2 separate regions of the Homo sapiens genome follow, and region 1 is linked to region 2. Evidence: fine-mapped expression QTL. Tissue or cell type: whole blood. Region 2 holds a variant in brackets; the other region holds the start of a gene. All regions are shown on one strand. Distances are between the middles of the regions.

Region 1 (4,000 bases), 22 kb before region 2:
AAGGCCACAAGCCATCATAAATATTCAGCTCAATGAACTGTCAGAGTGAAACATCCCTCAGGTCCATATAACCACTCAGGTCAAGAAATAGAACATTTTCGGCAGCCCAGAAACCTCTTCCAAGTACTACTGTATTGCTTTTTAAAGCAATCTTTAAAAAGCATATTTTGAGACATCCAACACATGCGATTATGAGGTCATACTACCAGGAATAGTTACCAAAGCTGTGTTAAATTTCTTTGACTACAATACATCCAAAATAGCATTGTTGAGGACATTTCAGGTCAATGGGTCTTAGCCAAACAGTAAAAATAGTTAGCATTTATTGGACACTTACCATATAGTGCCAGGTATATAGTGCTTTATATATATTACATAATTTAATCCTTAGGCCCACTTTATAGATGAGAAAACTGAGGCAGAGACAAGTTAAGTAACTTTCCCAGTGCCACACAGCTTGTAAATAGGAGAGTCTGGACCCCGAGCCAGGGAGTCTGGCTCCAGAGTCCACAAGCTTAGTCACCATACCATACTGCCCTATCCAGTGGTTTGTTGTTCAAAATAAAGTAAATGAGAGCAAACCCTGTAATATGAGAGACCTTGTAAGGACTCAAATATAAGGTTACTCCCTCTTTCCTGAGGGATGATTTTGGAAAAACAAAAAAGCAAAAACTTCACCCTATATTCAAGCTTATACGGCATTTGCAGATGACTCCCAAATATTTATGTCCATCCCAGACCGCTCCTCTAAGTTGCAGACCTACCTACCCAACCAGCACTTCAAAGTCAGCAGCCCCAAGTCACAGTCATCATCTCCTCATACGAACCCCCTGCAGCCTCCTGCTGCTCCTTTTGTGGAGCACAGCCAGCCTCACCACCATCCATCCACCCAGCTGCCCAAGCGCCGTGGATATGATCAAGGACCCCAGTCTCTCCCTCACTCCTCTTCCAAAATCACACTCCCTTCTTCTTCAGCTGAAACTGTGTTCCTTCTCCACAGAAGTTCCTGATTTCTTTGTGCCATTTGTACACATCTCAAGTCCAGAAAACCTGTTTTTCTCACAGTCTACTCGCAGTCCTAAGGAAGAAGGACAGGAGTCAGAACTCTTCCCAGTTCCTTTAAGATTGCTTGCTCTTTGTCTCTGTCTGATTTCCCCTCTCCCCATATTCTCTCCCAAGTTGGTTTTTTGAGCCCCTTCCCACTTCCCTGCCCGGTTTCCTCCTCACTTAATTTTTCTAGGGAGTATATCGTGAGTGGGACCACCATCCCCAAAGCTCTTCTTTCCAATATCTCCCGATCTCTACCCTCAAATTTGGGATAAAGAGAAAGTGGGGGAAAGGGAGCCTGGGGGTGAAGGAGAGAAAAGAGACAGAAATCATGGGATAATGAAAAGTGACTAACAGGGGAGAAGGCCGAGGTTACGATGGAAGAAGGGGAAGAGACAGCGGGTAGTGAAAAGGGCAGGGGTGAGAAAAGGGAATGAGGAGAAGGCGTGAGGAAAAGGGGATGATGAGGTGAGGCGAAAGACACAGGGAGAAGGGGATGGGGAGAAAGGTGGGGAGAAGAGACGGGGAGAAAGGGATAGGAAGAAAAGGATAAAAGGAGAGGTGGGGAAGGAGAATCTGATGTAAAGAGGCTGGAGAGAGATCAAGCAGAAGGGGTAAGGAGAAGAGAAAGGGGAGAAGAGCTGGGGAGAAAATGATGGAGATGGGGCGAGAAGAAGAGGATGGGAGAAAGGCAGAGGGGAATGGAGATGACGGTTGGGAAAAAGAAGGGGCGAGAGGGAGACCAGGGCACTGAGGGAGAAGAGGGGAATAGGGGATGGAAAGAAGATGGAAGAGGAGGAGGTGAGCAGCAGGGAGCGGCGAGAAGGGGAAGAGACGAGAGGGCGTAGAGAACCGAATGGGAGGAGAGGACGGGAGAAGTGACGGGGAGAAGGGAAGGGAACCGGGACGGGGGCGCGGCGCGGCGCTGGGGCCGGATCCGGAGCCGGGGCCTGGGGCCGGGAAGTGGAGGGGCGGAGGGAGGCCGGGCGGGCGCCGGGGGGAAGGGGGGGCGGCGGCGCGGAGCGCGGGTGGGGGCGGGGGCGGGGGCTCCGCGGGCGGAGGGGCGGGGGCTCGGGTTACCGCGCGGAGGGCGGGGGGAGGGGAGGGGAGGGGGCGCGGGGCCGCGGCAGCGGAGCTCGCATCCTCGGCGGGGCGGCTGTGCAGGAGGCGGCGCCCGGGCGTCAGCGGACGGACCGATCGACGGCCAAGGGCGCGCGGACCGACGGCGGCTGCCCGGAGGGGATCGCGGGCCTCGGAGACAGCGACTGCGGACGATGCGCGGCCTCAGGCCCCGCGCGAGCGGGCGCTGCCCGGGGGGCTGACCGCGGCCGGACGGCGCCCCAGCACCGGGCGAGGGAGCCCGCGTCGCGCGGAGGTCAGTGCCCGCGCCCGCCCGGCCCGTCTGGCCGCGCCCGCCCTGCCCGCCGGCCTCCCCTGGGCTGCGGCAGCGGCGGCGGAGCCGGGGGCTTTGTTCTGAGCCGGAGACAATGGGGGAGGGGGGGCCTGGGCCTGCGGGACCCGGGCGGGCGTGAACGTGAGCGTGGGGGCAGGGCCTGGGGGTCTTTGTGTGCGTGTGTCATCGAGTCGGGGAGGGTGGCGGCGGGAGCGTGCGCCGGGGGTGTGGGGTGCGACAGCGTTGTGTTCCAGTGCATCGTCGGAGTGTGTCAGTGCGTGTCACTGGGAGGTTGTGTGTCCCTGGGCGTCTCTCTGGCTGTGTGTGCATGTGCGTGTCACTCTGAGGGTGTGAGGGTCAGAATGACCGTGTGTCATGGTGAGCGAGTCCCTGTGAGGGTGTGTTGCCCGCTCTGTGGGAGCCCATGTGTCAGAATGTGGAGGATGGGTGTGTGACAGAGACCAACTGAGACAGAGACAAAGAAACTGAGTGGGGAGAAGTACAGAGAAGCAGAGGAGAGGCAGGCACAGCCTGAAGTGGATGGAGGGGGGGGTCACCCAGACGTGTTCTGAGTGGGAGATTGGAGCAACTGGGAGTTTGTGTCTGGGATACCCAGCTCAGAATCCCGTGCAGGGGACAGAGCAAGGTCACCGCAGGCGTGGGTCCCACGTGGAGGGGGTGGGGAGAGGGAGGTCTAGAAGCACAATGAACTCAGTGTGGCGGGCTGGGCCCACAGCCACAAGGTCATAGGCCAGAAAAATATTGTCGCTTATGTCAACTTCTCAAATACCCATAGGGACACAGTCATAGCCCTACTCAACCCACAAGAGGACACAGTCCCAGGGAACACACATCCTCAAGAGATACCCTCACAGCCATCATACACTTCCAGGAAGCCCACCCCCAGGAAGCACCCCCAGTCAGAACCAACACACACCTACAGCAGACTCTATCAAGCCAACACACACCTACGGAAAATGCTCTCATGACAACACACACCCACAGGAGAAATGCTGCAACCAACATACTCCCACCGGTTCATTGTCAAGGCCAACACATACCATGGAAGACATTGTTACTGCTAACACTCTCCAGAAACACTGTCACCAGCAACAAACAAGTAGACCAGCACCTCTCAGGAGACATTGTCACTGCAATCCACATCCATCAGAAGCACTGTCACAACTGTCACAGCACATCTTATTAGGTTTACTTCCTTGGAGCTGCCCATACATAGTGGGTGTCCTAGAAGCCTGTCACTAACAGGAGGCTGTGCCACAGTTGCCCTTACCACACAGCCACTTGTACAACCCCCAGGAGACAGTCATGGATGGCATGCACACCACAGGAAGACCTGTCCCAACTTCTGAATAAACTCTGCTTAACTTATCAAGCTCACACCTTCACCCCTTCTCATACGTAGATCTCCCAGGTATACCCTCTTGTTCCCTGAAAACTTCGAGATCTGGATAGTGTATCCTGCCATGGTTTCTCAGTGTCCTTCAACACCACAGCTTCACAGATTCTTGACCTCCTTAGCTCCTGTTACCTTCCTCCCTC
Region 2 (4,000 bases):
AGTTGTTCCGGAGGCTAAGGCAGGAGGATTGCTTGAGCCCAGGAGTTCGAAGTTGCAGTGAGCTAGGATCACACCACTGCACCCCAGACTGGGCAACAGAGAGCCTGTCTCAAAAATAAATTAAATAAATAAATAATTTATGTTTTGAAAAGTCAAAGCAGGAGGTACACCTGGAAAAGAGGTTGGGATAGGCATATGGAGTAAGTTTCGAGGCTAGTAAGAAGTTTAGAGAGTTCACAGATAAGTGTCTTTCTTTTCTCCTTGAAATAGTGCATCTGATGAGAGCAAGGGATGGGATGGGGGCAAGAGAAGAGGGATGAAGTTTATTATGGCTTTGGGGCAGAATGGGAGAGGGAGCCGACCAAGGTCGGACTGAGACGCTGAGCTGAGAATCTGCTGAAAATGGAGACTGTATTTGCAGTGAAACCTCTGAGCAGGGGTTGTACAGGCCAGGAAATTCACTTCTGCCTTGCTCATTTCCAGTCAGTGGCCCCTGTGCCTTTTGGGGTCACTTCCTGACAACTTCCCCAGACCACTGTTTATTGCTTTCTTCCTGCAGCGAGTCAGAGGGCAAAGGTCGTTAACAGCTTCTGGAGATGGTGCCGCAGCTGTGCTGCTGCCTGCCAGGATTGATGTAGGGGAAGTCTGTCTCCTGGGATATCCGGGCCCACAGCCACAGTAGAGAGTTGGAGCAGAAGCTGTTTCCAGGGTTCAGCCATGGCAGGGTCTTGGTGTCTCTCAGGAGGGTAAACAATGGCACAGATCATTTCTGTCAAGGGTCTGGGCCACAATCAGAAGTCCTTGGCCAGCTTTCTCTCTAAGCACATTTTCTGGCTGAGAAAGGGGAACTCTCCAGCTTCCTCTTGCAGCATATCCTGACCCTGAGGTCCTTATATCCACAAAGAGCGCTTTGTCACAGGCTACAGTTGTCAGCACCAGCTAACCCACTATTGAGGGCCTAATGTGTACCCAATGTATAAAACTTAGTGTGAAAGAAGGTTTTGTTACAAAGCAGGATGATCAGACCGTCGATTTACTCGGTGAAAAAATACACATAAAGCACCTACTATGTACCTTGCACTGTACTAGGCTAACGATGCATGAGCCACACACCCATAAATCTATAGAACAGACCCTATAGTGATCAGATCCCAGTATTAATCAGATCCCACTCTGTAATAATCAAACTCAATAAAGATCAAACCTATAAATCAGTCTCAATAATTCCACTGTCGGTGAGTTCTTGGTTTGGGGTGATTATGAGACTTGGTGAGGGTATTAACTTCCTGGACCCACCTGGAATTTGAGGTCACAGCCCTTTCTTCTTTCTAAGTACAGTTGGTCCTCATTATTTGTGAATTCACTTAATCTCGAAAATTTATTTGTAACTCCAAAATCAATACTAGCATTCCTGGACATGGGCAGAGAGATGAAAAATTTGAGTTACCTAATGTTCACATTCCCAGCACAGGGTGAACAAGACGATGTTCTGCCTTCTCATTTGGGCTCTCATGCTTGTAAACAAATGTCCCTTTCAGGTCTATTTACTGCAACTTTTTTTTTTCATTTTTTTAGTGCAAAAAGCTGATGATTTCACTGTTTAAATGGTCCCCAAGTGTAGTGCTGAAGTGTGGTCTAATGTTCCTCAGTACAAGAAGGCTGTGATGTGTTGTATGGAGAAAATACATATGTTAGATAAGCTTTATTCAGGCATGAGTTACAGTGCTGTTGGCTGTGAGTTCAATGTTAATGAATGAACAATGTATATTAAACATAAGATGTCTTTAAACAGAAACACACATCAAACAAGGTTATGTATTGACCAGCTGACAAAAAATGTTATGGCTAGAGGCACTTAGGAACCTAACTAAATGGTGAGGTACAGGCTGAGGTTGGGTTTGGGCCCATGTCCTACTAGTCCTCTCTGTGTGTCCGCCATCCAGAGACTTAGCACCAGTTGTTCATTCTAATGGCCACCTACCTCTGGCTTTTCTGGCAAAGAAGAGGGGACACCACTCACCCCAGCCTCTCCCTAGGTGACAGCCACAGACGCGGATAGTGGCCCATTTGGCCTCCTCTCCTATTCCTTGGGTGCTGGACTTGGGTCCTCCGGATCTCCCCCATTCCGCATTGATGCCCA[C/T]AGCGGTGATGTGTGCACAACCCGGACCCTGGACCGTGACCAGGGGCCCTCAAGCTTTGACTTCACAGTGACAGCTGTGGATGGGGTAAGTCAGTAGACCAAGGGCAGGTTGGGATGTTGGGGTAGGGCACTCACCAGGGCCAGATGAGGCCCACCTGACCTATGGCTGCATGTCCCACCAGGGAGGCCTCAAGTCCATGGTATATGTGAAGGTGTTTCTGTCAGACGAGAATGACAACCCTCCTCAGTTTTATCCACGGGAGTATGCTGCCAGTATAAGTGCCCAGAGTCCACCAGGCACAGCTGTGCTGAGGTTGCGTGCCCATGACCCTGACCAGGGATCCCATGGGCGACTCTCCTACCATATCCTGGCTGGCAACAGCCCCCCACTTTTTACCTTGGATGAGCAATCAGGTGAGGATCCTCCCATTCCCGGGGCCTTCCCCCAGGTCCCCCTCCCCACCTGCCTAAATGATGTCCTACCCACCTCCTCCATAACCTTTCTAGCCCTATTATGTTTCCTTATATATCTCTGCTTCTATTCTTCCTCTCAGGGCTGTTGACAGTAGCCTGGCCCTTGGCCAGACGGGCCAATTCTGTGGTGCAGCTGGAGATCGGGGCTGAGGACGGAGGTGGCCTACAGGCAGAACCCAGTGCCCGAGTGGACATCAGCATTGTGCCTGGAACCCCCACACCACCCATATTTGAGCAACTACAGTATGTTTTTTCTGTGCCAGAGGATGTGGCACCAGGCACCAGTGTGGGCATAGTCCAGGCACACAACCCACCAGGTATCATTTAGCTTTATACCCACTTGGTGTCAGACCCAAATACCCCAGTATAACCCTCCAGCACCATCCGAAGATACCTTAGAGTATCACAGGGCAGATAGCCCCAGTATAAAACACTCCTGTACCAATGCCCAACACCTCCTTAGGCACAGTGCAGGCACACTGCTTCATGAGGCATAGGAATGTCACCTCAGTGCGTGCCAACCAACTTCTTTGCCAACCCCTGCCCCTCCTCCTAATATTTTGAAAGGCATGGGTGTGGGCACTGCCCAGTCCTTCTCGGGATCAGACTCTGGGTCCTGACTCAATAAGTGCCCCTCCATCTCTTTCCTGATCCCTTTTTCATCCTCCCTAGGTCGCTTGGCACCTGTGACCCTTTCCCTATCAGGTGGGGATCCCCGAGGACTCTTCTCCCTAGATGCGGTATCAGGACTGTTGCAAACACTTCGCCCTCTGGACCGGGAGCTACTGGGACCAGTGTTGGAGCTGGAGGTGCGAGCAGGCAGTGGAGTGCCCCCAGCTTTCGCTGTAGCTCGGGTGCGTGTGCTGCTGGATGATGTGAATGACAACTCCCCTGCCTTTCCTGCACCTGAAGACACGGTATTGCTACCACCAAACACTGCCCCAGGGACTCCCATCTATACACTGCGGGCTCTTGACCCCGACTCAGGTGTTAACAGTCGAGTCACCTTTACCCTGCTTGCTGGGGGTGGTGGAGCCTTCACCGTGGACCCCACCACAGGCCATGTACGGCTTATGAGGCCTCTGGGGCCCTCAGGAGGGCCAGCCCATGAGCTGGAGCTGGAGGCCCGGGATGGGGGCTCCCCACCACGCACCAGCCACTTTCGACTACGGGTGGTGGTACAGGATGTGGGAACCCGTGGGCTGGCTCCCCGATTCAACAGCCCTACCTACCGTGTGGACCTGCCCTCAGGCACCACTGCTGGAACTCAGGTCCTGCAAGTGCAGGCCCAAGCACCAGATGGGGGCCCTATCACCTATCACCTTGCAGCAGAGGGAGCAAGTAGCCCCTTTGGCCTGGAGCCACAGAGTGGGTGGCTATGGGTGC

Evidence for each region. PIP is the estimated chance that this variant, and not a neighbour inherited with it, causes the effect.
Region 1: DCHS1 starts here. The variant in region 2 is fine-mapped to the expression of DCHS1 in whole blood (TOPMed, PIP above 0.99).

What each region holds. Positions count from the first base shown.
Region 1 is chr11:6,653,985-6,657,984 of GRCh38, reverse strand. DCHS1 (dachsous cadherin-related 1) reads left to right here and starts at 2,176. Exons shown (of 21, transcript NM_003737.4): 1 at 2,176-2,422.
Region 2 is chr11:6,632,343-6,636,342 of GRCh38, reverse strand. It overlaps DCHS1 (dachsous cadherin-related 1), which reads left to right. Exons shown (of 21, transcript NM_003737.4): 3 at 2,037-2,225; 4 at 2,323-2,554; 5 at 2,695-2,931; 6 at 3,287-4,000. Among named protein-coding and RNA genes, the nearest start is that of TPP1, 15 kb to the right of the region's middle. The variant C/T (reference allele first, on the strand shown) is at 2,141.